4 separate regions of the Homo sapiens genome follow, and all the other regions are reported to be linked to region 4. The links are microRNA targets in miRTarBase. Many come from high-throughput screens and were not tested one by one. Region 4 holds a microRNA gene; each other region holds the end of a gene's coding sequence.

Region 1 (7,748 bases), not on the chromosome of region 4:
ATGAACGAGGGAGGGAATGCATGAGTGAGTAGCTGTCACCACATGGCAGGTATCTTTGCTGAACACTGGTTTAGTCTTCTGACAAAAGCCTCCTAATGTAGCCGCTTCAGACGAGAGCAGGCTTTTTTCTCTGAAGTACCCAGCCAACATCGTCTGGCGGTGTCTGACTCTGTGGTGTTGGCGGGGACACGAACCAAGCACAGCTTGATTTTTATGGTTTAATGTAAGAGATGGAGCCTCCACCACTGTCGCTTCAGAAGATTGTTGTTTTGACGTCTCAGCCACACAAATGGAGTGAAACTGCCATTATAGGAGATAAGCAGGGGAGACTGAGGTGTCAGGATTTAGGACCCTGCCTTCAAAGCAGATCCACCTGTTGCCCCCACAGTTTGCGAGTGGCTCCATTGAACACAAAGGGACTGATGGTTGAATGCAGGCGGGCTGCCGGGTGCCCCCATCTGAGGACGTCTAACTGTGTCCCTTCTTTGTCTCCCGTCCCTCCCCACTGTCCTCGCTCTGCAGGAATGGCATCACCAGCTGCCGGATGCGGACTGAGAGTGAGCCATCTTGTGGCTCCCCAGTGGTCAGCGGAGACCCCAAGGAGGATCACAACTACAGCAGTGCCAAGTCCTCCAACGCCCGGAGCACCTCGCCCACCAGCGACTCCATCTCCTCCTCCTCCTCCTCAGCCGACGACCACTATGAGTTTGCCACCAAGGGGAGCCAGGAGGGCAGCGAGGGCAGCGAGGGGAGCTTCCGGAGCCACGAGAGCCCCAGCGACACGGAAGAGGACGACAGGAAGCACAGCCAGAAGGAGCCCAAGGATTCTCTGGGGGACAGCGGGTACGCATCCCAGCACAAGAAGCGCCAGCACTTCGCCAAGGCCAGGAAGGTCCCCAGCGACACACTGCCCCTCAAAAAGAGACGCACCGAAAAGCCCCCCGAGAGCGATGATGAGGAGATGAAAGAAGCGGCAGGGTCCCTCCTGCACTTAGCAGGGATCCGGTCCTGTTTGAATAACATCACCAATCGGACGGCAAAGGGGCAGAAAGAGCAAAAGGAAACCACAAAAAATTAAAAACAAGTCACTGATTTGTTTTGAACTTACGACCATTTGGTTTCAGCATGTCAGGAGATTTCTAATGATTTGTGGCAATATCAGCAATTTTTTTTCTTTTTTCTTGTTTTTGGTTTGGTTTTCTTTCTTTTCTTTTCCTTTTATTTTGTTTTAATTTGCCCCCTCTTCTTTGTTTTGGACCCTTAAGAATTTTATTTTTAAAGGAGATTGAAGCCATAGAACTCATATTGACACTCAGCTGTTTTACAAAAGCTTTTCATTATCTGAAGACAAAACCGAAAAAGCCAAAATTACCATTGCTTCCTCCAGCTTGTCAGAAACCTGTGGCTGAATCCGCAGGGATGTCAACGTCAATATCACAGGAACACACATTCGGCACCTAGAAGGCACGTGGGCAAAGTAATCATCGTTCAGGCCCAACCCTTAGGTTTAAAAAGTCAGGTTGTCCATCCCATTGGGTTCACTGAGTGAAGGCACATAAAGCAATTGAGGAGGAGGAGGAACCCCTCGTCCCCCTAGGAGCAGACCCAAGCTTGTGGCACCAGGCATCTGATGGTGCCAGGAAAGCCACTGGAATTGTCACACGGCGAGCACAGAGGGCCGGCCACCAGTCCTCGATGCTTCTGAACCCTGAAGCCCGATGACATCTTACGAGGTGGACGTTGGACTGTTCATGCGCATCGGGTGTCAGTGACTCATGGAGAAGAAATGGGGTAAATTTTTAGTGATGTTGCTAATCATTGAATTCTGTTCTCTATTAAATTAAGAAAATGTTCCAAAAGCCATAAGCCTGAAGATTGGCCCTGTGCACGCACGCACACACACACACACACACACACACACACACACACACACACGAAGGAGAGAGAGAGAAAACTGATGGGGAAAACAAGCTGTGTCTTCTTAACTGCCCAAGTGAAAAGCAACCAAGTCCAGGAAATTACAATAGCTGTTAAGGAAAGGAAATAATGGTACAGATCTTTTTCTGTCTATCAAAACTATTTGATCCAAGTGAAAAAAAAAAAAAAACTAGAAAGCTACGGAACCTGCCATTAGTATTGTGGTGTATTTTTAAGATTAAAGGTACACTGATGGACAAAAAAAAAAAGTAAAACATGGCAAAAAATAAAATAACTCCTATACTGCCCTCAAAATGGAGTTTGCAATTAATATCAGGATTTATCTTTGCAAAAATCAGTGATTTCCACATTCAGCCAGTATAGCCAGCAGAAATTTCTGATCCACAATGCATGGATTCCTTTGAAGAAAAAAAAGAAAAAGAGAAAAAAATCACAAAAACAAACTTTTTTTATTCAAAAGTAACAAAGTTCTTGTAAGGTAAATAATGTATTTAGCATGAAGCATGAATTATTTTCATATAAATATAGAAAATAGAGAAAAGGCTATGCCTGTAATTTTTAAGCCCTTAGGCTTAGAGTTTCTTTTGGTTTTCTTCTTTTTTCTTTCCTTTTCTTTGCTTTCTTTTTTTCCTTTTTGTTTTTGTTTTTGTTTTTTGTTTTTGTTTTTTTTTCGGGTTATTTTGTTTTGGTTTTTTGAAGCAGGTGTTTAAGGTTTAACCTTCTTCAGGGACAAATTCTGACTGTTGGGGAACTTACTCTGCAATATAAAAATATCTTCATGCTCTGGTAGGGCTTGGATGGTTGAACTCTGTACTGCCTTGTGTGCACTTCAGCCCCGACCCCCTCTGATTCTCTGTTGAAAAGTGTGTCCTTTCTCTCTGTCTGTACATGTTTAACATGACGCAATAATTTGAGGGCAAACTTAGTAGTGAGTGTGTATGATAGAATCAAGAGAATTATGGGACGCTTACTTGAGAAAATCATTACCATGATTTGGTTCTAGGAAAAAGGCAGTGAATAATTATGCAAATTAGCCAGAAGAAGGGGAACCGTGCTAATGGGCCTTATTGGGTGAGGGGACGAGATGGGGTTCATGTGAAGGAGGAAGCGATGCCGAGGTAGGAAAGGCCAGCCCCAGACATCCTATCGCCACAATGCCATGTCGCAATAGGAAGCAGGGGCCGGCCATCGCTACCTTCAGCACACTGACCAACCTGGAATTAAGACCACCTAGATTGCGAGAGCTGAATTTAGAAACCAGACAACGTCATGCAGCCCAGAAACTCCTGTTGTTACCTTTGCCTAAGAAATTTTCTTTAATGGCGGGGGCGGGGGGCGGGGGTACAAAGAGAAATCTCTAAAAGAATATGATCTTCCATCCAAGTGGAGGGAAACTTTAAAACAAAAACACCCAGTACTGTGGCTCAGGATATGATGCGTGAGGAGAGGGAGGGAACAGAGATGACCTTAACTTTTAAAAAAGGGACTGCTGTGGGCCAAAGCCAAGCCCATCTGCCAGGACGAGGTAATGTCAGAGCTCCATCAGCCCGGACAGTGGGAACTAACTGGTGCATTCCCCACACTTACCTTCCGGTGGGTTGCTGATGAGAGAACCTGAAAAAACCTACACCTCTACAGCAGGTCGAATTCATGACCTGAAGCTGAATACTTCCAGCATATTTATTCAGGGTGTAGGTGGGAATAAAGTATCTTCGCAGTGCTCTGTTCCCTCCGTCTCCCCAGACATCTGACACCCTAAAAGCCATCCACAGCTATGGAACCTGAGCGACACCTTGATTTGTGTTGTCACCTGACCAAGCCTAAAGACCTCCAGCTCAGTCCCCCACCTTCATCCCACCCCACAGATGATAAAATTCAGACCTCTCTCCTGAAAGGCAGAGGTTCAACATTCAGGACTGTTTCTGGCCGAGGACTTCTTCCAATTAAAACCCCCACCGTGGGCTGTCTCCCCTCATTTCATTTTTCTAAAGGGGCAGAGGCCTCTTTTAGAAAATAATAAAATGCAATGTGTGTGATTTACTTTTCTGATCTCTTTGAGAAATAGAGAAATATAAAAGTGTGTTCTTAACTCCAGAACCACTCTTTTTGCATAAATACCTCATCGGGCAGCTTTCTAAGTGTGATTTTCCTGAGTCTCCCTTCGTTGGATCTGCCGGAAGACTTGTCGGGGAACCTTTAGTGAGGGTACTTCTTCCTATTTTTCTTCTGTTTTTGGAGGCATACACATTATGCATAACCAAAACAATGGCTCAATTGTGTTTAACTTTGTATTTTGATTGTTGAGAACAAAAACAAAAAGTATCAATGTGTATGTGGCTGTTTGTAGTGAATTTATTGGAGAATGAGGTTGTCCGTGTCCTTAACAAGCCAAGGGGCAGGAGGCACCCTCTCTTATCCCCTCCTCCAAGAGCAGTAGAGAATTTAAGCACAAGCCTATTTGTGAAAGAATATTTTGCTTAAGTGTCATTCACTTTAGTCTTGGAATTCCTTCCCAAACGTCAGGTGTTCTTTTAGCTTCCAAACTAGCATATGTATCCATTAGTCTGACAGATCGCCTGAACACCATTAAGAGGTGTGGCGTTTTTGCTTTCATTTCTCCTGCTGGGAGAAGTGGCGGTTCATGTGTCATTCCAGTATCTCACATACTCACACGGGGCAGGGGGGAGGGGGAAACGGGGAACTATAGCAATATTTAAAGATGCTTTGGAAACCAACCGTGAACACATCAACACCACGACGTCTACGATTACTTGCTATTGGCCCTCGGATACATTTAAGAGAAAGAGACAGTCACTCTTTTTTTTCTTAAATGATATACATATAAACAGTTATTTTTATCCTATTATAATTGTCTTTTGTCTTTATCTAGTACTATGTGGAAAGGGTTTGCATCATAGATTTTTCCCAGCCTTATAATATACCATAAGCTCCTACTTCCCTGCCCCTCCCTAATCAGTATTCTTTCAAGAGTTCTTTGGTGAAGCCATCTATCTGAAACTAAAATGAACCAAACCCATATTTCACTGGTGGTTGGAGAAAACCATGGCCAAAACGATTGTGGCAGGTCTCAATCTTGGGAGTTTTTAAGAAGGAATGTGCCAGAGGCCGATTCCCAAGAACAGAGTTTTCTTTTGTTTTGCAGAGGCATTCAATGTGTCTAGTGCTTGCTGGCCACAGCAGTTACTACCACAGAGCCTTCTGGGAGGGGCCGTTGTGTTGAAGGAGGCTCCTGCCTGAGGGACAGCATCAGGCAGTGGGCTCTGTAGAGTGAGAACCAGGTGGAGGCCTTCTGTGCCCAGCTCAGAGTTCTGCACCACGCCAGGACTGCCCAGGCCAAGGGCTACTGACGCAAGTTCCACTCATTCCACTCTGTGGGGGGCGCCTTGGGCCTCTCCTGGAAGGGCTCTTGGAGAAGGAATTGGAGTTACGTACAAGTGACCTAAATGGGAAGCTTTTCTAGATGAGATTGGATTAAATTCCATGTGATTTCTCTTTCCCTTTAATCCAGGTTGGGACTCGTTTCTTTCTGGTGGATCACAGCTGCCCAGATGTTGCAATTGATTTTTATGTTTCTGTAGAGAAGTATTTTTCTTTCATCTTCAGGATTTTTTTTGCCACCAAAAGAAAACATTGGAACTCTGTGTTTCCTCTTGATTGTGACTTCCCAGTGTTGACAGTTAAGTCCTTAGTGTCGTAGGTCCCAGCCCACCAATACTATATCAAACACTGTTATGCACATAATGCAGCACTGTGATCTAATTTAAATAATACTTTTTTATTATTTATACTACTATATATAATATACATCAACACTTTTGCTATATAACCTAAGTGATAACCCTCTTTTAGTTACCTGCCAAACTCTGGACTTGGTTTATATTGCAGTTAACACAGTTACAAAGCTGTAATGGTGTCTTTTTTTCCTTTGTAACGGAATGTGTAAATCAAAGTATATACATTGTGTGGTGTTCCTGTTTCTGGAGTTTCATGAGGATTTACACATGGCATTCAGTGTTCTGTATAGATCTGCCTACCTTTGTGAATTCATCTGTTAACCCCTCTTCCTTTGAGAGAGCACCGGCGATGGTGGTTAACTCCTTGTGTTTTCTCTCTCTCCTACTGGTTATTCTTGAATTAAGCACAGACTCGTCAGCTCGGTTGCTTTATCATGAATAATGTGTGTGACCTTGCAGTTCTTCCACAGTTCAGCAAACAAGTGCTAGCTTCACTGACCAAAAATTAAGGAAGGAAAACACAGTTTTTAAAACGATCCATCTTTTAACAGCCGAAACCGATGTGTCTATGGTGCTGCACCTTGCTGTTGTACTTCTGAAATCAGACGTGTGTGAACGATCATTTCTGACTTAACCGTGAGATGCTCACGAGTACCCTTCCTGTTGTTTTGTTAGCATTGAAATCGAGACTATTTATTTGGAATATATACAACAGTGTTTTTCCACTGTATTTCATTTGCAAAAGTTGAGAACTGCTTTCTCTACCTTTTGCAAAATAATTGATATTCCATATTGGATTCTCAAAGACTTCGATATGGTGAACCTATTAAACCTAGAAATTGTATTCATCCTTTCATGACTGTGGCCTGAGTTCCCCAGCCCCTCTCCTCCTTTTTTTTAGATGAGATTTAGCACACTCTCAGTTATTTAAACATGCAACATTTCTTGAGTATGTATGTTGAGGCCATCTGAGCTCATAGCTGATTCAGTAACCAGTTTCATGCTGTGTCATTCACACTCACTACTTAATACTGCCATGGTGAAAATGTGGAGGAAAAATGTATCCATGTGTGTCTGGGAAGCATATACACTTGTACATTTTTTAATACTCTGATTCTGTAACATTTCTGAGTTTTGTTTTGTTTTACAGAAAAAAAAAAAAAGTGATAAAGCAATCAGAAGACCAAGAGGTTTACTATTGATGCTTAGGGTCGTCTGACCTTGGCTGGCCAATAGACCTACACGGCCAAATTAATTTACGAGAGTAATAATTTTTCAAAAGCCAATTTTTTTTCTGTATTTTCTGTATGAAACTGCCAATATCATGAATAGAAAGGGAGAACCATAAAGGAGAAAGAACGTGATGTTCTGTTATGTTCATGTAAACCTAAAGAAACAGTGTGGAGGCAGGCGCGATCAGCCGAACTCTAGGGACTTGGTGTTGCTTGGAAGGCATCCATACCTGCATTTTGCATTCTTCGTATGTAATCATATTGCCAAAGACAAACTATTTCATCATTTATTGTAAATAACACTTTTCCCCAGACCTACCATAAAGTTTCTGTGATGTATTGTCTTCCAGTTGCAATAAAAATTACTGAGTTGCATCAATTGAAGAAAAACACCACGTAGTGTTATGTGTGCTGCGCCTCCCTGTGCAGATGCTGGTCCACAACGTCATTTCTGTTCCTTACCTGCGGTCAGGCGTGTGTGCAGTTTTTGCAGTCTGGTTTCGGGGTTCTCAGCTGCATTTATTGTGCCCATCCTCACACGTGCGTAGGCTTGGGTGGGCATCACACACTGCTCTGCAAACACAAATGCACATTCGGAAGCTGGGCTTACCCGGGATCTCAAGAGAATTCCAGCTTTGGTGTAGCTGGTGGCTGGCCAGCCTCCCATCATGAGCCTTAAGACTTGTGGTTTAGACAGAGCTTCCCTTTCATTTGGAAGTTGTCAAACAATAAACTGCAATTGTACTTTAGTACTGGAGCCTGCCAGCCTATCCCAGATCCTGAGGGTTTCTTGTAATGACATTCCTAGCCCTAAGACCTTCAT
Region 2 (7,748 bases), not on the chromosome of region 4:
AACTAGCTGCAGGAGATCTTTTTTTTTTTTCCCCATACCCCAGTGGTGCCTGGAATGCCAGCGAGACAGAACTGTTCACTCCCCTGGAAAGGGGTGCTGAAGCCGGGAGCCAAGTGATCTGGCTTGGCGGGTCCCACCTACACAGAGCCCAGGAAACTAAGATCCACTGGCTTGAAATTCTCGCTGCCAACACAGCAGCAATCTGAGATCCACCTGGGACATTCGAGCTTGGTTGGGGGAGGGGGATCCACCATTGTTGAGGCTTGAGTAGGCAGCTTTATGGTCACAGTGTAAACAAAGCCACTGGGAAGTTCAAATTGGGCAGACCCCACTGCAGCTCAGCAAGGCTGCTATGGCCAGACTGCCAGATTCCTCCTCTCTGGACAGGGCATCTCTGTAAAACAGGCAGCAGCCCCAGTCAGGGGCTTATAGCATACTTAAACATCCCTGCCTGATGGCTCTGAAGAGAGCAGTGGACTTCCCAGCACAGCGTTCAAGCTCTGCTAAGGGTCAGACTGCCTCCTCAAGTGGGTCCCTGACCCCTATGTATACTGACTGGGACACACCTCCCAATAGGGGCCAACAGACATCTCATACAGGAGACCTCTGGCTGGCATCTGGGAGGTGCCCCTCTGGGTCGAAACTTCCAGAGGAAAGAACAGGCAGTAATCTTTGCTGCTCTGCAGTCTCTGCTGGTGATACCCAGGCAAACAGGACTGGGAGTGGACCTCCAGCAAACTCCAGCAGACTGGCAGCAGAGGGGGCCTGACTGTTAGAAGGAAAAGAAATAAACAGAAAGGATTAGCACACCCACTCAAAGACCCCATCTGAAGGTCGCTAATATCAAAGACCAAAGGTAGATAAATCCACAAAGATGGGGAAAAACCAGTGCAAAAGGCTGAAAATTCCAAAAACCAGAATGCCTCTCCTCATCCAAAGGATCACAACTCCTTGCCAGCAAGGAACAAAACTGGATGGAGAATGAGTTTGACAAACTGATAGAAGTAGGCTTCAGAAGGTGGGTAATAACAAACTCCTCCAAGCTAAAGGAGCATGTTCTAACTCAATACAAGGAAGCTAAGAGCCTTGAATAAAGGTTAGTTGAATTGCTAACTGGAATAATCAATGTAGAGAAGAACATAAATGACCTGATGAAGCTGAAAAACACAGCACGAGAACTTTGTGAAGAATACACAAGTACCAATAGCTGAATTGATCAAATGGAAGAAAGGATATCAGTAATTGAAGATTAACTCATTGAAATAAAGAGAGAAGACAAGATTAGAGAAAAAAGAATAAAAAGGAATGAACAAAGTCTTCAAGAAATATGGGACTATGTGAAAAGACAAAATCTACGTCTGATTGGTGTACCTAAAAGTGAAGGGGAGAATGGAACCAAGTTGGAAAACACATCTCAGGATATTATCCAGAACTTCCCCAACCTAGCAAGACAGGCCAACATTCAAATTCAGGAAATACAGAGACCACCACAAAATACTCCTTGAGAAGAGCAACCCCAAGACACATAACTGTCAGATTCACCTAGGTTGAAATGAAGGAAAAAATGTTAAGGGCAGCCAGAGAGAAATATTGGGGCAGCCAGAGAGAAAGGTCAGGTTACCCACAAAGGGAGACCCATCAGACTAACAGTGGATCTCTCTGCAGAAACCCTACAAGCCAGTAAAGAGTAGGGACCAATATTCGACGTTCTCAAAGAAAAGAATTTTCAAACCATAATTTCATATCCAGCCAAACTAAGCTTCATAAAGGAGGGAGAAATAAAATCCTTTACAGACAAGCAGATGCTGAGGGATTTTGTCACCACCAGACCTGCCTTACAAGAATTCCTGAAGGCAGCACTAAACATGGAAAGGAACAACTGGTACCAGCCACTGCAAAAACATGACAAATTATAAAGAACATCGATGCTATGAAGAAACTGCATCAACTAACAGGCAAAACAACCAGCTAGCATCATAATGACAGGATCAAATTCACACATAACAATATTAATCTTAAATGTAAATGGGCTAAATGCCCCAATTAAAAGACACAGACTGGCAAATTGGATAAAGAGTCAAGACCCATCAGTGTGCTGTCTTCAGGAGACCCATCTGACGTGCAAAGACACACATAGGCTCAAAATAAAGGGATGGAGGAATATTTACCAAGCAAATGGAAAGCAAAAAAAAAAAAAAAGCAGGAGTTGCAATCCTAATCTCTGATAAAACAGACTTTAAACCAACAAAGATCAAAAGAGACAAAGAAGGGCATTGCATAATGGTAAAGGGATCAATTCACCAAGAAGAGCTAACTATCCTAAATATATATGTATCCAATACAGAAGAACCCAGATTCATAAAGCAAGTTTTTAGAGACCCGCAAAGAGACTTAGACTCCCACACAATAATAGTGGGAGACTTTAACACCCCACTGTCAATATTAGACAGACCAACAAGACAGAAAATTAACAAGGATATTCAGGACTTGAACTCAGCTCTGGACCAAGCGGACCTAATAGACATCTACAGAACTCTGCACCCCAAATCAAAAGAATACACATTCTTCTCAGCACCTCATCGCAGTTATTCTAAAATTGACCACATAATTGGAAGTAAAACACTCCTCAGCCAATAGAAAAGAATGGAAATCATAACAAACAGTCTCTCAGACCACAGTGCAATCAAATTAGAACTCAGGATTAAGAAACTCACTCAAAACCACACAATTACAAAAAAACTGAACAATCTGCTCCTGAATGACTACTGAGTAAATAATGAAATGAAGGCAGAAATAAAAATGTTCTTTGAAACCAATGAGAATGAAGACACAAAGTAACAGACTCTCTGGGACACATTTAAAGCAGTGTGTAGAGGGAAATTTATAGCACTAAATGCCCACAAGAGAAAGCAGGAAAGATCTAAAATTGATATCCTAATATTAAAAATAAAAGAACTAGAGAAGCAACAGCAAACAAATTCAAAAGCTAGCAGAAGACATGAAATAACTAACATCAGAGCAGAACTGAAGGAGATAGAGACATGAAACACCCTTCAAAAAATCAATGAATCCAGGAGCTGGTTTTTTGAAAAAACTCAACAAAATAGATAGACCGCTAGCCAGACTAATAAAGAAGAAATAGAGAAGAATCAAATAGACACAATAAAAAATGACATAGGGGATATCACCACTGATCTCACAGAAATACAAACTACCATCAGAGAATACTATAAACACTTCCACACAAATAAACTAGAAAATCTAGAAGAAATGGATAAATAACTGGACACAAACACCCTCCCAAGTCTAAGCCAGAAAGAAGTTGAACCCCTGAATAAACCAATAACAAGGTCAGAAATTGAGGCAGTAATTAATAGCTTACCAACCAAAAGAAGTCCAGGACCAGATGGATTCACAGCCAAATTCTAGCAGAGGTACAAAGAGGAGCTGGTACCATTCCTTCTGAAACTATTCCAAACAATAGAAAAAGAAAGAATCCTCCCTAACTCATTTTATGAAGACAGCATCATCCTGATACCAAAACCTGGCAGAGATACAACAAAAAAAGGAAATTGCAGGCCAATATCCCTAATGAACATCAATGAGAAAATCCTCAATAAAATACTGGCAAACTGAATCCAGCAGCACATCAAAAAGCTTATCCACCATGACCAAGTTGGCTTCATACCTGGGATGCAAGGCTGGTTCAACATACACAAATCAATAAACATAATCCATCACATAAACAGAACCAATGACAAAAACCACACGATTATCTCAATAGATGCAGAAAAGGCCTTCAATAGAATTCAACACCACTTCATGCTAAAAACTCAATAAACAGGTATTGATAGAACATATCTCAAAATAATAGGAGCTATTTATGACAAACCCACAGCCAATATCATACTGAATTGGCAAGAGCTGGAAGCATTCCCTTTGAAAACTGGCACAAGACAAGGATGCCTTCACTCATCACTCCTATTTAACACAGTACTGGAAGTTCTGGCCAGGGCAATCAGGCAAGAGAAAGCAGTACAGGTATTCGAACAGGAAGAGAGGAAGTCAAATTGTCTCTGTTGGCAGATGACGTGACTGTATATTTAGAAAACCCCATTGTTTCAGCCCAAAAACCCCTTAAGCTGATAAGCAACTTCAGCAACGTCTCAGGATACAAAATCAATGTGCAAAAATCACAAGCATTCGTATACACCAATAACAGACAAACAGAGAGCCAAATCATGAGTAAACTCCCATTCACAATTGCTACTAAGAAAATAAAATACCTAGGAATACAACTTACAAGGGAGGTGAAGTACCTGTTCAAAGAGAACTACAAACCACTGCTCAAGGATATAAGAGAGGATACAAACAAATGGAAAAGCATTCCATGCTCGTGGATACAAAGAATCAATATCATGACAATGGCCATATTGCCCAAAGAAATTTATACATTCAATGCTATCCCCATCAAGCTACCATTGACTTTCTTCACAGAATTGGAAAAAACTACTTTAAACTTCATATGGAACCAAAAAAGAGCCCGCATAGCCAAGACAATCCTGGGCAACAAGGACAAAACTGGAGGCATCGCACTATCTGACTTCAAACTATACTACAAGGCTACAATAACCAAAACAACATGGTACTGGTACCAAAACAGATATATAGATGAATGGAACAGAATGGAGGCCTCAGAAATAAACCACACATCTAGAACCATCTGATCTTCAACAAACCTGACAAAAACAAGCAATGGGGAAAGAATTCCCTATTTAATAAATGGTGTTTGGAAAACTGGCTAGCCATATGGAGAAAACTGAAACTGGACCCCTTCCTTACCTTATACAAAAATCAACTCAAGACGGATTAAAGACTTAAACGTAAGACCTAGGGCCATAAAAATCCTAGAAGAAAACCTGGGCAATTCCATTCAGGACATATGCATGGGCAAAGACTTCATGACTGAAACACCAAAAGCAATGGCAACAAAAGCTAAAATTGACAAAAGGGATCACATTAAACTAAAGAGCTTCTGGACAGCAAATGAAACTATCATCAGAGTGAACAGGCAACATACAGAATGGGAGAAAATTTTTGCAATCTGTCCATCTGACAAAGGCCTAATATCCAGAATCTACCAAGAACTTAAACAACTTCACAAAAAAAAAAACCCCATCAAAAAGTGGGCAAAGGATATGAACAGATACTTCTCAAAAGAAGACATTTATGCAGCCAACAGACATGAAAAAATACTCATCATCACAGGTCATTAGAGAAATGCAAATCAAAACCACAATGAGATACCATCTCATGCCAGTTAGAATGGCGATCATTAAAATGTCAGGAAACAACTGATGCTGGAGAGGCTGTGGATAAGTAGGAATGCTTTTACACTGTTGGTGGGAGTGTAAATTAGTTCAACCACTGTGGAAGACAGTGTGGTGATTCCTCCAGGATCTAGAACTAGAAATACCATTTGACCCAGCAATCCCATTACTGGGCATATGCCCAAAGGATTATAAATCATTCTACAATAAAGACATTTGCACATGTGTTTATTGCGTCACTATTCACAATAGCAAAGACTTGGAACCAACCCAAATGTCCATCAATGATAGACTGGATTAAGAAAACGTGGCACATATACACCATGGAATACTATGCAGCCATAAAAAAGGATGAGTTTATGTCCTTTGCAGGGTCATGGATGAAGCTGGAAACCATCATTCTCAGCAAACTATCACAAGATCAGAAAACCAAACACCACATGTTCTCACTCATAAATGGGAGTTGAACAATGAGAACACATGGACACAGGGAGGGGAATATCACACACCGTGGCCTGTTTGGGGGTGGGGGGCTAGGGGAGGGATAGCATTGGAGAAATACCTACTGTAGGTGATGGGTTGATGGGTGAAGCAAACCACCATGGAACATGTATATCTATGTAACAAACCTGCACGTTCTGCACATGTAACCAAGAACTTAAAGTATAATTTTTAAAAAAGAAAAAAAATAGACAGAACCAGTAAAATACTAAGTTGATAACTACGTCAGTTTACTTTTCTAACAAGTGTTCATACTATTTCAGTAATTTTGCTTACAGAAATAGTTTGCAAATTCTAAAGAAGTGAACATAAATTATGTTCCTTCATTATACTATTTCTTCTGTAATATATGATATGGACTTGTTTGTTCTGTTCTATATTATGTCTATTCCTTTTTATCCTTAAAAAATAATTTACTTTTAAGTTTCTTAGACACTGGAACTGAGAACAGAACCCTAGCTTGAAAAGTACTTGAGTTCCCTTCAGACTATACTAGAAAAAAAGGAAATTAAAAAGGAAAAAAAAGCGTTTGAGTTTATATGGTCTTAACTAAATTACATTGGTTTAGTGTCCAATCCGATTGTTTGCAATGAGTATTTCAATATGACACAAAAACCTTTTGTAATCTATTAGGAAAGGTCAAGTTTTATGGCTTTATCTATATCCAATCTAAGAGTTAATATCAATAAAACATTTTGGTCCATTTCATGTAACTGGTGTTAGGTATTGTTACTACTATATGGTGTTAGGTATTGTAACAACTGTATTGTTACTACGTATGGTTAAAGCGGTAGAGGTTTTATTGTAATTTTAAGTTAACAGCATTAAAAAGAATAACACAACATAATCATGCTGTTAATAAAAAGACAAAAAGGCTTTTCAGCAAAAAAATGTGTCATTTAATCACACAAAGAACATTTTCTTACACATCAAATAAAAAAATCTAAACATCAACAAAGATGTTTAGATATTCTAAGAATTGATGGGACCTAATATCTAACAAAGATTCTTAGATATTCTAAGAATTGATGGGACCTGATAGAAGCATCAGTGAAATGTCATTAAGAATATGTGTGAATATTATACGAGATGTGCACAATTAGCTTCATCTCAGCAAAATCTAGCAAGAGATCTTTTGGTACAACCAACATGGCAACATTTATTAGCCAATGCACTGTAGAGTTGTCTCTTTTTTCGAGAATGAGTATCCAAGCCTAAGTATTTTAATTCTGAAGGACTGCTGTCTGCGGCTTCACTTTGTCTATTGCGAATAAGTTTCTTAAATTCTTCAAAGAGAAGACTGGAATCTTTTAATACAGGTACATGTTGTTGTAGCTGTGGTAATGCTGGCTGCATCTCAGACAGGGTTAACTTCAGCTCCTGTGGCAAATTAGCAACAAATTCTGACATCATATTTATGGTTTCTGTATCTTTGTTGATGAAGGATGGCACAATTTCTGTTAAATTTAAAAAAAAAGGTGTATGTGAGGGTATATTCATGTCAAAGAGCACTCAGAAAAACTATGAATGTTTGCATAGACAAAAAAGCATTGCCTCAGTATAAATTAAACATTGAAACAAAATAAGCAAGCATCCTAATATCTAAACACTTAGCTTACTTACAGTTGGACACCTTAAAGTACCATAATTTTACCAAGGCTCTGCTTTACCCCATTGGTCCTCTCTCGTCTCTCTTCATGATCCCCTCAGTGCTTTTATCATAGTACTTTTGACTCTCCCTGACATTAATCTGTCATCTTTCTGAAGTCATGTAAGTCACTGAAAACAGTTTGACCACAGCTAGTGGTCATTTTCTTGGATTCTTCTTAGTTAAGTCATTTTCTTCCATTGCTATGATTTATGATATTATGAGTTGTAATAGTAACCCTTGAAAAAGATATTACTTTAAGCTATTGA
Region 3 (7,748 bases), not on the chromosome of region 4:
GAACCCACCCTGATAACCTTATCTAAACTAATCTTAAATACTGCCCAAAGTCCCCACCACCTACACCCACCATTGCCCAGGCTTGCTTAGGTAAACAAAGCAGCCCAGATGCTCGAACTGGGTGGAACCCACCACAGCTCAAGGAGGCCTGCCTGCCTCTGTAGGCTCCACCTCTGGGGGCAGGGCACAGACAAACAAAAAGACAGCAGTAACCTCTGCAGACTTCAATGTCCCTGTCTGACAGCTTTTGAAGAGAGCAGTGGTTCTCCCAGCCCGCAGCTGGAGATCTCAGAACGGGCAGACTGCCTCCTCAAGTGGGTCCCTGACCCCTGACCCCGAGCAGCCTAACTGGGAGGCAACCCCCAGGAGGGGCAGACTGACACCTCACACGGCCAGGTACTCCTCTGAGACAAAACTTTCAGAGGAACGATCAGACAGCAGCATTCGTGGTTCACGAAAATCCACTGTTCTGCAGCCACCGCTGCTAGAACACAGGCAAACAGGGTCTGGAGTGGACCTCTAGCAAACTCCAACAGACCTGCAGCTGAGGGTCCTGTCTGTCAGAAGGAAAACTAACAAACAGAAAGGACATCCACACCAAAAACCCATCTGTACATCACCATCATCAAAGACCAAAAGTAGATAAAACCACAAAGATGGGGAAAAAAACAGAGCAGAAAAACTGGAAACTCTAAAAAGCAGAGCACCTCTCCTCCAAAGGAACGCAGTTCCTCACCAGCAACAGAACAAAGCTGGACAGAGAATGACTTTGACGAGTTGAGAGAAGAAGGCTTCAGATGATCAAACTACTCCGAGCTACAGGAGGAAATTCAAACCAAAGGCAAAGAAGTTAAAAACTTTGAAAAAAATTTAGACAAATGTATAACTAGAATAACCAATACAGAGAAGTGCTTAAAGGAGCTGATGGAGCTGAAAACCAAGGCTCGAGAACTACGTGAAGAATGCAGAAGACTCAGGAGCCAATGCGATCAACTGGAAGAAAGGGTATCAGTGATGGAAGATGAAATGAATGAAATGAAGCGAGAAGGGAAGTTTAGAGAAAAAAGAATAAAAAGAAACGAACAAAGCCTCCAAGAAATATGGGACTATGTGAAAAGACCAAATCTACATCTGATTGCTGTACCTGAAAGTGACGGGCAGAATGGAACCAAGTTGGAAAACACTCTGCAGGATATTATCCAGGAGAACTTCCCCAGTCTACCAAGGCAGGCCAACATTCACATACAGGAAATACAGAGAACGCCACAAAGATACTCCTCAAGAAGAGCAACTCCAAGACACATAATTGTCAGATTCACCAAAGTTGAAATGAAGGAAAAAATGTTAAGGGCAGCCAGAGAGAAAGGTTGGGTTACCCACAAAGGGAAGCCCATCAGACCAACGGCGGATCTCTCGGCAGAAACTCTACAAGCCAGAAGAGAGTGGGGGCCAATATTCAACATTCTGAAAGAAAAGAATTTTCAACCCAGAATTTCATATCCAGACAAACTAAGCTTAATAAGTGAAGGAGAAATAAAATACTTTACAGACAAGCAAATGCTGAGAGATTTTGTCACCACCAAGCTTGCCCTAAAAGAGCTCCTGAAGGAAGCACTAAACATGGAAAGGAACAACCGGTACCAGCCACTGCAAAATCATGCCAAATTGTAAAGACCATCGAGGCTAGGAAGAAACTGCATCAACTAATGAGCAAAATAACCAGCTAACATCATAATGACAGGATCAAATTCGCACATAACAATATTAACTTTAAATGTAAATGGACTAAATGCTCCAGTTAAAAGACACAGACTGGCAAATTGGATAAAGAGTCAAGACCCATCAGTGTGCTGTATTCAGGAAACCCATCTCATGTGCAGAGACACACATAGGCTCAAAATAAAAGGATGGAGGAAGATGTACCAAGCAAATGGAAAACAAAAAAGGCAGGGATTGCAATCATAGTCTCTGATAAAAGAGACTTTAAACCAACAAACATCAAAAGAGACAAAGAAGGCCATTACTTAATGGTAAAGGGATCAATTCAACAAGAAGAGCTCACTATCCTAAATATATATACACCCAATACAGGAGCACCCAGATTCATAAAGCAAGTCCTGAGTGACCTACAAACAGACTTAGATTCCCACACAATAATAATGGGAGACTAACACCTCATTGTCAACATTAGACAGATCAACAAGACAGAAAGTTAACAAGGATACCCAGGAATTGAACTCAGCTCTGCACCAAGCGGACCTAATAGACATCTACAGAACTCTCCACCCCAAATCAACAGAATATACATTTCTTTCAGTACCACACCACACCTATTCCAAAATTGACCACATACTTGGAAGTAAAGCTCTCCTCAGCAAATGTAAAACACCAGAAATTATAACAAACTGTCTCTCAGACCACAGTGCAATCAAACTAGAACTCAGGATTAAGAAACTCACTCAAAACCACTCAACTACACGGAAACTGAACAACCTGCTCCTGAATGACTACTGGGTACATAACGAAATGAAGGCAGAAATAAAGATGTTCTTTGAAACCAACGAGAACAAAGACACAACATACCAGAATCTCTGGGACACATTCAAGGCAGTGTATAGAGGGAAATTTATAGCACTAAATGCCCACAAGAGAAAGCAGGAAAGATCAAAAATTGACACCCTAACATCACAATTAAAAGAACTAGAAAAGCAAGGGCAAACACATTCAAAAGGTAGCAGAAGGCAAGAAATAACTAAAATCAGACCAGAACTGAAGGAAATAGAGACACAAAAAACCCTTCAAAAAATTAATGAATCCAGGAGCTGATTTTTTGAAAGGATCAACAAAATTGATAGACCGCTAGCAAGACTAATAAAGAAGAAAAGAGAAAAGAATCAAATAGACACAATAAAAAATGATAAAGGGGACATCACCACCGATCCCACAGAAATACAAACTACCATCAGAGAATACTATAAACACCTCTACACAAATAAACTAGAAAATCTAGAAGAAATGGATAAATTCCTTGACACATACACCCTCCCAACACTAACCCAGGAAGAAGTTGAATCTCTGAATAGACCAATAACAGGATCTGAAATTGTGGCAATAATCAATAGCTTACCAACCAAAAAGAGTCCAGGACCAGATGGATTCACAGCCGAATTCTACCAGAGGTACAAGGAGGAACTGGTACCATTCCTTCTGAAACTATTCCACTCAATAGAAAAAGAGGGAATCCTCCCTAACTCATTTTATGAGGCCAGCATCATCCGGATACCAAAGCCTGGCAGAGACACAACCAAAAAAGAGAATTTTAGACCAATATCCTTGATGAACATTGATGCAAAAATCCTCAATAAAATACTGGCAAACCGAATCCAGCAGCACATCAAAAAGCTTATCCACCATGATCAAGTGGGCTTCATCCCTGGGATGCAAGGCTGGTTCAATATATGCAAATCAAGAAATGTAATCCAGCATATAAACAGAACCAAAGACAAAAACCACATGATTATCTCAATAGATGCAGAAAAGGCCTTTGACAAAATTCAACAACGCTTCATGCTAAAAACTCTCAATAAATTAGGTATTGATGGGATGTATCTCAAAATAATAAGAGCTATCTATGACAAACCCACAGCCAATATCATACTGAATGGGCAAAAACTGGAAGCATTCCCTTTGAAAACTGGCACAAGACAGGGATGCCCTCTCTCACCACTCCTATTCAACATAGTGTTGGAAGTTCTGGCCAGGGCAATTAGGCAGGAGAAGGAAATAAAGGGTATTCAATCAGGAAAAGAGGAAGTCAAATTGTCCCTGTTTGCAGATGACATGATTGTATATCTAGAAAACCCCATTGTCTCAGCCCAAAATCTCCTTAAGCTGATAAGCAACTTCGGCAAAGTCTCAGGATACAAAATCAATGTACAAAAATCACAAGCATTCTTATACACCAATAACAGACAAACAGAGAGCCAAATCATGAGTGAACTCCCATTCACAATTGCTTCAAAGAGAATAAAATACTTAGGAATCCAACTTACAAGGGATGTGAAGGACCTCTTCAAGGAGAACTACAAACCACTGCTCAGTGAAATAAAAGAGGATACAAACAAATGGAAGAACATTCCATGCTCATGGATAGGAAGAATCAATATCATGAAAATGGCCATACTGCCGAAGGTAATTTATAGATTCAATGTCATCCCCATAAAGCTACCAATGACTTTCTTCACAGAATTGGAAAAAACTACTTTAAAGTTCATATGGAACCAAAAAAGAGCCCGCATCGCCGAGTCAATCCTAAGCCAAAAGAACAAAGCTGGAGGCATCACGCTACCTGACTTCAAACTATACTACAAGGCTACAGTAACCAAAACAGCATGGTACTGGTACCAAAACAGAGATATAGATCAATGGAACAGAACAGAGCCCTCAGAAATAACGCCGCATATCTACAACTATCTGATCTTTGACAAACCTGACAAAAACAAGCAATGGGGAAAGGATTCCCTATTTAATAAATGGTGCTGGGAAAACTGGCTAGCCATATGTAGAAAGCTGAAACTGGATCCCTTCCTTACACCTTATACAAAAGTTAATTCAAGATGGATTAAAGACTTAAATGTTAGACCTAAAACCATAAAATCCCTAGAAGAAAACCTAGGCATTACCATTCAGGACATAGGCATGGGCACAGAATTCATGTCTAAAACACCAAAAGCAATGGCAACAAAAGCCAAAATTGACAAATGGGATCTAATTAAAATAAAGAGCTTCTGCACAGCAAAAGAAATTACCATCAGAGTGAACAGGCAACCTACAAAATGGGAGAAAATGTTCGCAACCTACTCATCTGACAAAGGGCTAATATCCAGAATCTACAATGAACTCAAACAAATTTACAAGAAAAAACAAACAACCCCATCAAAAAGTGGGCGAAGGACATGAACAGACACTTCTCAAAAGAAGACATTTATTTATGCAACCAAAAAACACATGAAAAAATGCTCACCATCACTGGCCATCAGAGAAATGCAAATCAAAACCACAATGAGATACCATCTCACACCAGTTAGAATGGCAATCATTAAAAAGTCAGGAAACAACAGGTGCTGGAGAGGATGTGGAGAAATAGGAACACTTTTACACTGTTGCTGGGACTGTAAACTCGTTCAACTATTGTGGAAGTCAGTGTGGTGATTCCTCAGGGATCTAGAACTAGAAATACCATTTGACCCAGCCATCCCATTACTGGGTATATACCCAAAGGATTATAAATCATGCTGCTATAAAGACACATGCACACGTATGTTTATTGCAGCACTATTCACAATAGCAAAGACTTGGAACCAACCCAAATGTCCAACAACAATAGACTGGATTAAGAAAATGTGGCACATATACACCATGGAATACTATGCAGCCATAAAAAATGATGAGTTCATGTCCTTTGTAGGGACATGGATGAAGCTGGAAATCATCATTCTCAGTAAACTATCGCAAGAACAAAAAACCAAACACTGCATATTCTCACTCATAGGTGGGAACTGAACAATGAGAACACATGGACACAGGAAGGGGATCATCACACTCTGGGGACTGTTGTGGGGTGGGGGGAGGGGGGAGGGATAGCTTTAGGAGATATACCTAATGATAAATGACGAGTTAATGGGTGCAGCACACCAGCATGGCACATGTATACATATGTAACTAACCTGCACATTGTGCACATGTACCCTAAACCTTAAAGTATAATAATAATAATAATAATATAAAATTAAAAAATTAAAAATAAATAAATAAACAAAGTCCCCACCACTTCCAAATGCCATCAACATACAAATTTGGAGATTAAGTTTCACACACATGAAATCTGGGGGGCACATTCAAACCATGGCAACAAGGTATCTAAAGTATTCAAACTCATAGAAACAAAAAATTATAATTTCAGTTGAGAGAGACTTGGGGAAGGAGGAAATGGGGATTTGTTCAATAAATAGAGAATCTTAGTTTTACAAGGTGAAAAAGTCCTTGAGATCTGTTGCACAAGGTGAATACAGTTAACACTGATGAACTGTACACTCAAAGTGATTAAGATGGTAAATTTTATATGTTTTTACCATAATTTTTTAAAAATAAAAATAATTTTAAAATATGATTTAGATACAACTATTCTAGCACAAATAGGATTAATATAATTATATGTTAAGAGTGCATTAATTCAGAAAAGCTAGGAAATAAGTAAATAATGAAATGTCAGACCTCTCAGATGCACACCAATTCTCTTTTGCACTTACTGAATTGGAGATTTCATGGATGAAAGCACAGCAGATGCTAAAAATTTGTTTTCTGCTTTCCCTTCTTTCCCTTTTCCTCTACTCAACCTGTCCCCAACTGCAAATATATGCACTGAAGACAATAAAGGAAAAAATAATACAGTGTTCTGCTTTTCTCTTCCCTTTGCAGTCCTCCATAACAGGTACAGTAGTATTAGTTCAGGAACAAGGAAAATGGGAGGGAAGCTCAATTCCAGCCTTCTCATTATGAAAACCAGACCATTTCTTATATTTCAGGCTCAAGATGGCAGCTCTACCAGGCAGTAGAAAGATATCTGAGTACTCAAGATCTTCAAAACCAAATGAGAAATTAATTTTAAAAATAAAATACTACTATGTATCTCCTATTTCACTGAACTAATTTCAAATTAAAGGTGGCAAAAATAAGAGACAACACACCCACATAACACACATTTTCTTTACTAACCAATGAAACAAAATATAAGAAAATATATATCATAAATGAATAGCTTATTCCATTAGGAAATATCTCATTCTACATTCTCTTAGAACTGGTTTTCCATCAATTTCATCACATTTTGTTTCTGCACTTCTGTTTGGGTGAAAACTCCCATAATAAACAATAAGAAAAAGAATTCCAAGAAGAAGAGTAAGAACTATAGTTATACTGATAGGTATAAAATAGTCTGGATTAAAAATAGTGAGGGGGCAAACCCAGAATACAGTCAATATCCCCAAAGTGCCCAGTACCCTAACAATATAATAACAAGACATTGGACACTTGGTATTCTGTCCCTTAATATTAAAAAATGTAAAGATAAGAATGAATCCAACAACAATCCTATATAAGAATTCCATACTTATACAAGTACAAAACTGGGTGTTGTTTTTAAATGCCCATATTATACCTAACAACCAAAGAAATAACAACAGAAATAAAGCAATCTTAACATTTAAGAATAGTAGAAGTACAACACTCAGCATCCACGATAATAATGTAAACAACTTGTAAAAGAGATATGTGATTTTGGGACATAATCCATTAAGAAGCTTTTTGTCAGGCAAGGATTTTCTTAAAGCTACTTGATAATCAACAGTTGACCAAGAAATAGCACAGCAAGAGACCATGATGGCCGCATCTACAAAACAAAAAAATAAAAAATATATTGTTATAGGAATAATAGAAATATTAGATTACTATATCCCATACATGCTATATCTATATACACACACCCACAAACACGTCACATACTTTACTCTTCTCATCTAATCTTTTGAAGTAGATATTATTATGTATGGGGGAACTGAGACTTGGAGAGATACACTGCTTGACCCAAGTTGCAAAGCTAGTAAGTTGCAGAACTGAGATTTGAACCTGATTCCAAAGTGGATAGATTTATCCACTATATTAGACTGTTTTATTATGATTTTTTAAAAATT
Region 4 (7,748 bases):
GTAATTTTTTTCAGTAAAAGGAAATGACATGGCATTTTCATGATTTTTAAGAAAGGAATAGTTATTAAAATTTTATTGTGTGTGGTTTTCCTTTTTTTTCTTTTTTTTTTTTTTTTTTTTTTTTTGACAGAGTCTTGCTCTGTCACCCAGGCTGGTATGCAGTGACGCAATGTCGGCTCACTGCAACCACCGCCCCCCAGGTTCGAGTGATTCTCCTGCCTCAGTCTCCCAAGTAGCTGGAATTACAGGTGCACACCACCACGTCCAGCTAACTTTTTGTATTTTTACTACAGTTGGGGTTTCAACATGTTGGCCAGGCTGGAGGGCCCCTTGAACTCCTGACCTCAGCTGATCCACCCGCCTCAGCCTCCCAAAGTGCACCTGGCCTATGTGTGCTTTTCCAAACAGAAACATTAGTTCCAGTGAAAGAAAAAAAAAGTGGGGTACACTGCACCACCAGGAAAGAAATTTAAAGTATACCACAATCAAAAAAATGAATTAACAACCTTATTTTATTCTTAATAAATAAGACGAGAGGATTTTTTAAAAATCCACCTACACTCCTACCACAGTGATAGTTGGTTTTATTTTCCTCACGTTTTTTCCAGGTTTTACTCAAAAGTATTTGATTTTACACGGTTAAAATCAAACACACAAGTTTTATTCTTTGCTCGCTTAATGGTACATCTTACAGATTTTTCATGTTATTCCACAGACTTTACGTGTATCATTATTACAGATGTATGACAGTCCCTTCAGTTTCTTCAAAAATTTATACATTTCTCACTTTCCAGCCAGATGTGCAAAGAAAATGTGGGTTCTTTATCCTTTATAAACACTTGGATATTCTCATGAGCCCACTCCACCGGGAGTAAGGAAGGACACATAAACTTTGAACTTGAAACTTTATGTTACCACAGTCCCTGCCCAATTTCACGAGCTCTTGGGTGACTTCTGAGGCGGGTAAATAACGTTTCCTGCTTCTTCCACTCTCTTGCTCTTCTCCAAGAGGATGTGGGCCTGGAGTGGTGCCCATGCCTTCGCAGCGCTGGAGGCCTGTGCTCCTTCCATGGGTCCCCACCTTGGATCCTGTCCTGGGTGCACATTGGCTGGTTCCACTTAAGTGAGAGTGAAATGGAATCCAGCTGAGAAATGTGACTTTCCCTTTAGTACGGGCATCCCTCCCAAAGAGCCTGGCTGTCTCCCACTGCTGGCGAACCCCACCTCAGCTCCTGCTGTGCGGTGGGGCCTCTTGGCGTCCACTTGTTACATTGCAATCCCACCTGCCCCCAGTCCAGGCAGCTCACCTGGCCGCTCTCATCTGCAGGGCCCCTCCAACCCCACCTTGGCAGACTTCTAGGGCAAGCTCCCCAGCAAGTAGCTCAGATCTACCCTGCATCCCTAGGACGTCGGGGTCCCTTCCCACGCCACACAGCAGCTGATGCTGCTCTGGCACTCAAGCTTGTGCTTCATTTCCATTTGTAATCTAGGGAAGGCCCTTGCCCCTGTGCTCTCTTCGCAGGAATTCTGAAATGAGCAAGGCCAAATGCCCTCTTCCACAGGCCTTCTAGCCAACCCGTCTAAAGCACCTCCCTGCTGTGCTTCTGCATCCCTGCACCTGCCTCTTCTGCTCCCGTGGTGGCAGGATGGGGAGCAAAACCGAAAAACATCTGGGAAAGAACGCAAAGGAAGACAAAAAGCAAGCAGGACCCTTACCACAGGAAATAAGCAGCTGAAATGAAGGGGGAAACCAGGAGCATTGATCGAGAGCATGGGGAATGGTCTAGTGCCCCAAACAAAAAGTGTTAGGTGCCCACTGGCTTCAGCAACATGCAGGTACTGGGGGACCTTGAAATGATGCCGTTTCGGTGGAGTGGAGATGAGGAAGTCAGCCAGCCTGCAGTGGCTTCGGGAACAAGTCGAGGCAAGAAAGGAAGACAGTGGATGTAGACACTGCTTTCAAGAAATTTGACTGTGAAGGGAAGGAAAGATATGAGATATGGAATGCAGGTGGCAAATGCAGCATCCAGTATTTTGGCTTTTTGGTTGGGGCAAAGGTAAATTCAACACTGATGAGAGCCAGCCAGTAGTGAGGGGAAGGCTAGCAATTCAGACAGCGTCTTTTCTGCAGGAGGGAGGTAGGGTTTTCTGCTAAGAGAGTAAGCAGCAGGGGCAGGAGGATCAAAGGACCCGGGTACCAAGAAGTTTGGAAAGAGCTTCCATGCTTAATGCAGGAAAAGCGGAATGAAGACATACAAGAATTACCAAGGAGTGCTGGATGCGCAGACGGCCTCAGCCAGCACGAATTGACTGGGGCAGTGACCTGGAAGGAGATGGGTGCACCTGTGTGCTTCCCAGCAAATCCCGACTTCAGGGTCCGGTCACAGAAGTGGTAAACCGTCCATGGTGTGGATGACTTCGACCACCTACCACATTTGTCAGTTCTCACCACACCGAGCACAGGAGCTCGAGTAAACACGCTAGCTGGAATGTAAGCTCCAGGAAGGCAGGACGGTGCTGCCCACCATGACACAGCTGAAGGGTCCTTAGAAATCACCTAGTCAAACCACTCCATTGACAAGGAAACCCCCAGTTTGGAGAAGGAGGCCGGAGTCAAAGGCAGACCTCCTGAGCTCCACTCCCAGACCTTTCGCCAGCACGGGGTGACCTCCAACTCCCTCAGAGAACACAGCCCTCCCCCTTTGGCTTCCAGCTGGAGCGTGAATTCCCGAAGGACAGCTTCACTAGATGCCCAGATTTAGGAAAACTGTAAAGCAGAAATATCATTCCATTTTTAAAGCAACACAACCTCCCCACGTGATAGCTATTAGTAAATAGCTCACAGCTGCGAGGAGGGGCTCCAAAGGACACAACACCCTGTGCCATGGGGTTTCCACGAAGATACATTCCTAGGTGTGGGCACGGTACTCCTCCCCTCCCTGCGGCAACGCGACGGGATGGCACCGGCGCGCTCTGGGGTTCGGAACGAGGCCAGCAGGGGGCGGTCTACACCACTGAGTGTTTTCCCAGCTCGGTTTGTTGTTTGGAAGGAAATTCACGTGTGATCAATCACACCTTAAATATCTTCTGTAGCTATAAATATCAAACATATGTTTTCTAAATGGTTTACACTCCTTATCTCCCCTTTTATAAGTTCAATAGTAGAGAGGTCGTGGTGAGGGACAGAGAAGGAACACCAGACCTGGGTCCGCTGAAGAAACAAGCCCAACAGGAAACTGCCAGGCGAGACCGCTCAGTTGCCTCCCAAACACAGATGGAAGACAGGATTTTCTGGAATCACAGCAAAAGAAAAAAAAAAGCCTCAGCTTTGAACATCTCGACAGCAAATTCAATGTCTAGTCTTTATTATTGAGCAAGTTCCCTAAAACTTCAAAGAGGTAAGCACATCAAAAAAGTACTAAGTATGAAACCCTGGGAATATAAACACATAAGAGACATCCTCCTGTCTTTGAGGAACTGATAACAAAGGGGAAAGAAGATACTATCTCAGGAGTGCTCTGAGCGTGGTTAAGGGCGTGATTCATCCCTATTTAATCAATATAGCTAGGGAAGAAGATTCCAACTAAGCATGAAAGAATAGATGGGACTCCAACCAGATTGTGGAGCACTGGAAACCAAGATAGTACATGTAGCCATTTTTAAGTTTGAATAGCAATTATCTTTCTAGTACGTAATCAGGGTGCAAAGCTTATACCCCTCATAAAAGAGTTTACTGAAGTTCAGCTACAACTTCCAGGTCAACACTTCTCCCCAACCAACCCACCTTTTACTTTGTCCCTCCCCCAAGGGGCTCAGGCCCACTACTGGGGGTAACTCAGCAGGACATAAGCCAAAATTAGGCCATCAGTATCGTGCTTTGGAACGGATTTCATTCTCGATTTTTGAATCCCTTGAATCTCTGTGGTATTGTTAGGAAGGATGGTGTCCTTTATATAGCTTTCCATAAAAAGTGTCTGATTTGTCTGGATGTCCAGCACATTTTAACAAACTCAAGCCTCTAGACCTGGGAGCTGGACCATTGCTTCTACAACAAAGGCAAGTCAGACACAGGGATGGAGCCAGTTCCTCTGGTCTCATGTGTGTGGGGGCCTTCCTGTGCCAATGAATCTACCTCTACCACTCACCCCACCCTAGCTGCATCCCAATCAACAGACAGAGCTTGGTGTGGTGGCACCACCTGTAGGCCCAACTACTCGGGAGGCTGAGGTGCGAGGATCACTTGAGTGCAGGAGTTGGAGGCTAAAATGAGCTATGATCATGCCCCCCCTGCACTCTAGCCTGGGCAACATGGAAAGACCCCATCTCTAAAAAATAGATACAATACAAAACAGACACCAAAAAAGAAGCACCAGAATTTACTTTGTTCTAAGGGATATAGGCTTTGTCACTTCAACAGTCAGGTCATGGGAGTTCTCAGAAAGTGTTTTGACATTTGCTCCCTAGCAGAGGAAAGTCATTTGTGAAACTATTTTTAAACAGCAAAACTAAAAAGGTGGGGTGCCATCTCAGATGCTCATTAGACATTGAGTCCAGAGCTGCTTTGGGGGGTAAGACAGAGACACTGTGCTCTAAATACCAGCACAAGCATGAAGGACAGCGACCACAATCTGTGCAGCCAGTCCACTTCTTTAGGAAATTCGATTGTAAATACTTTGGAGCTGATGAGCTCTCCTGTGTCATCTTCATATCATGAAACCTAATAAAGGTCTCCGAATGCCTGCTTCCCCAGCACCTCCACACAGTAACAATTTCTTGCAGTTTCCATTTCCCTCAAACCTCCCACTGTTGCTGCCACCCTATGGAAGATGATCTTATCTCAAATACTTCAGAGAAAATCTGAAGACGCCGGTGAGGAATTCTGACGCATCCTGACGCCATTTCACCAGAGCCTGTGCGCAGCAATGCCACTCACTGCATCTTTTTTTTTTTAAAACTAAAACGAGAGCCCTTTCTTCCTATCAAAAGGCAGCACTTCTCTAGATGCTTCCGAGTAGCCCTGGCCCACCCAGCCTCCTCAGGCACTCCACTCCCTTTTTCCCTCTTTCTCATAAAACCTCAGCCTTTTCTCACAAAATGCCTCTCCATTGGCATCCGTGCCTGCTCTCCTTTGCCCCTGGGAGCCCCCCCCCCAGGATTTGGTCCCCTCCAGCTCCTTGCTCTCTCTTCCCACCGGAGCTTTGTTTTGATTCATCTGGCCATCCGTCCGTCCACTCTTCCTCAGCCCCACTCCTCAGCACCCCCCAGTCGGACATCCAGCCACTAAAACACTCTCCTTTAGGCCAGCAGAGGCTTGCGTGATGATAAGCCTGCCATCTTGCTCAGTTTCTTCATGGCTCTTGGAAGCCTTGCACACCGCTAAGCTTCTTGAAACACCCACTCCCCGGCTTCCTGAGGAACCACTCTCTGTTTACCCTCTGACCCTCTGGCCACATTTTCTGAGTTTCCTTTCAGAGCTCCTGCTCCTTCTCCAAGCCTAGTTTGAACATTGGAATTTATCAAAATCCTGCTTTCAACTCACTTCAGTTCTCACTCTGTGATCTCTCTTCAAAGGTCTCACCCACTCCCATGGCTTCAAACATGTTCACAATGCCAAATTTCCGTCTCTCGACCCAATCTCTGCTCTGAATTCCAGCCCTCCAGATCAACTCCCAACTGCACATCCCCGTGTGAAGGTCTCACATTGCCTCAACCTCAGAAGGTCCCAAAACCAGTGCAGAGTCAGCCTCCCCCCAACACAAGCTCATCCCACTTCACAAAATGGTTCTTCCATGGGAAAGTCATTTGTGCTGAGGACAAACTCATCCTTGATCCCTTTGTCCCTCCGCACTTGCATCCAACATGGCATTGAGTCCTACCCATTCTGTGTCCTAAATATATTTCAACCTCATCCACTTTTCTCCGTCTCTACTCCCTGTAACCTAACCAAAGCAACTATCATTTCCATGGCCTGACACTCCCAAGAGCATCCTACAGGCTTTCTTTCCCCCATCCGTGCTCCAAACAGCAGCTAGTTGGGAGAACATTACTTCCACAAACTTTTAAGTCACTGAAACCGTGATCTTCAGCGTGGTGTCAGGCCCCATGCAGTCTCACCTCCAGCCAGTCCTCCTCTGGGACACATGCCCCAGACACAGGGCTGTATTTTTTATTCTTGGGTGCCAAGCTTTCTTTGACCTGGGAGGTTTCTTTCATGGGTTTGCTGTATCTCTAACCCTCTTCTTTCCTGCCCTCCTAATTCCCTTCTCCATCTCTCCTTCCCTCCTCCTCTATCCAATCCAACCAGACCAATTCTTTTCGTACCTTAGAGTCTTAACTTGAATGTTTCTCTCTTAGGGACATTTTTCTGATGGCCAACATCTTTAGAAAAGTTTGTATCCTCTTATGTATTCATAACATTTCTCCAACTGTGTGATTGCAACTACCCAATTGTAATTAAGTAATTACTTGTTTAAAGTGACATCTGCCTTTCTAAATGACCAGCTCCGTGATTTGTACATGGCTGGGCCTGTACATGGCTGGGCTCACCATTGCTTCCCTCCACCCTAGAGCAGGTCCTAACACTCTCAAGCCAGTAAATATTTGCCGAATGAGTTAATGAACCCTCAGCTCCAGCTATTGTGTGAGCAAGAGTTGCATCACACCTTCTCATGCACCTCTTCAGAGCCTCAAGGCCTCATGAATCCTTAGTCCAGCTCTTCATGGGCTCAGGAGGATGGTTGCAAGTCCCAGTCTGCCCAGGAAGCACTCCCAGTCACCCTTGTTGCCCTGGCATAATTATTGCGACGCCCCCCCACCCCGGTTCACTCTCAAAGTGCCCTGGTTTGAACTATAAAAAATAGGCTCAACGCATGCTCTGATGGGCCTGATGCAGGCACAGTGTGAAAGAGGCCACATGCCTCTTGCCCCCAATGCTGGAGAGGTCACTGGTTGACACCACAGGTGATCTCACCCCTGGGGTGCATGAGTCCAAGGGTAGGGGAGTTAGCATCCCAACTGGAGAGGAGAGCCAGTCCAGGAATCCCCCTTTTTCCATGGCAGAGGAGGCATCCCCGGAACGAGGTTGGTGTGGCTTCTCAGAGCCACAGTCCCAAGCTCCCTGATATGAGCTCTCTCCCTATCTCTCTTCTTTATCCCCACCCCTCCTTCCTTCTGCATCAGGCTTTGATTTCTGGAGAACCCAGATTAAAATGAGGATTTACTTCCATGTGGCCCTAAAGGAAAGAATTAGAACTGAAGAGTAGGAGAGCAGGAACACGAGAAGATACATTTTGGTTCAATATGCAGCCAACCTGACAGAAGCACACATATGGAATTATCTTCCTGGGGGAAGAGTTCTCTGTCATTCATAGGTGTTCAGACAGAAGCTAGACAGTCACAGACAGGACTATTGCAAGGAAGAGCTCAGTATCCGATGGGGCTGGGTTAGCTTTTCATTGCCTTCCTATTGAGGATTCCAAGATGCAATATTTAATGAAAAGTTATTTCATATGTCTACCTTGCTTAGAGAAAGTAATTGAAATGTGGAGAGAGATTTAATTGGCAAACCTTATCCAAAGTATTGTTTCCCATGAATAGTCTGGCTCACCATGTGCTCAGAGAAGGGCAAAATGGCCAGAAGATCCTGACTTAACATTGAAAAAAGGTACAATTATCCCCAAACATTTCCAGCTGACATAAATATGCACACCCCATCTAAAAAGTACAGCAAACCTGAAAGCCCCATTGGC

What was found. Region 4 holds the annotated microRNA hsa-miR-7153-3p (CACCAUGGACGGUUUACC, at 2,392-2,409, opposite strand). A microRNA usually pairs through its seed, bases 2 to 8, with sites in the 3' UTR of a target mRNA and lowers its output. Matches are read on the target gene's strand: a 7mer-m8 pairs with bases 2 to 8, a 7mer-A1 pairs with bases 2 to 7 and ends in A, and an 8mer does both.
Region 1: the mRNA of FOXN3 is a reported target of hsa-miR-7153-3p. Seed matches in the 3' UTR shown: 7mer-m8 at 6,728-6,734.
Region 2: the mRNA of RLN2 is a reported target of hsa-miR-7153-3p. The part of its 3' UTR that is shown has no 7-base or 8-base seed match.
Region 3: miRTarBase lists XKR9 as a target of hsa-miR-7153-3p. Seed matches in the 3' UTR shown: 7mer-m8 at 5,902-5,908 and 7mer-m8 at 5,416-5,422.

Annotation. Positions count from the first base shown.
Region 1 is chr14:89,155,744-89,163,491 of GRCh38, reverse strand. It overlaps FOXN3 (forkhead box N3), which reads left to right. Exons shown (of 6, transcript NM_005197.4): 6 at 523-7,315. The coding sequence ends at 1,078. Among named protein-coding and RNA genes, the nearest start is that of TRA-AGC15-1, 180 kb to the right of the region's middle.
Region 2 is chr9:5,293,157-5,300,904 of GRCh38, forward strand. It overlaps RLN2 (relaxin 2), which reads right to left. Exons shown (of 2, transcript NM_134441.3): 2 at 6,708-7,288. The coding sequence ends at 6,942. Among named protein-coding and RNA genes, the nearest start is that of RLN2, 7.7 kb to the right of the region's middle. RefSeq lists an enhancer at 98-640.
Region 3 is chr8:70,733,495-70,741,242 of GRCh38, reverse strand. XKR9 (XK related 9) reads right to left here. Exons shown (of 5, transcript NM_001011720.2): 5 at 5,301-7,447. The coding sequence ends at 6,819. Among named protein-coding and RNA genes, the nearest start is that of XKR9, 68 kb to the right of the region's middle.
Region 4 is chr18:11,652,494-11,660,241 of GRCh38, forward strand. It overlaps MIR7153 (microRNA 7153), which reads right to left and starts at 2,448; the gene lies at 2,392-2,448. RefSeq lists an enhancer at 5,258-5,427 and a cis regulatory region at 5,343.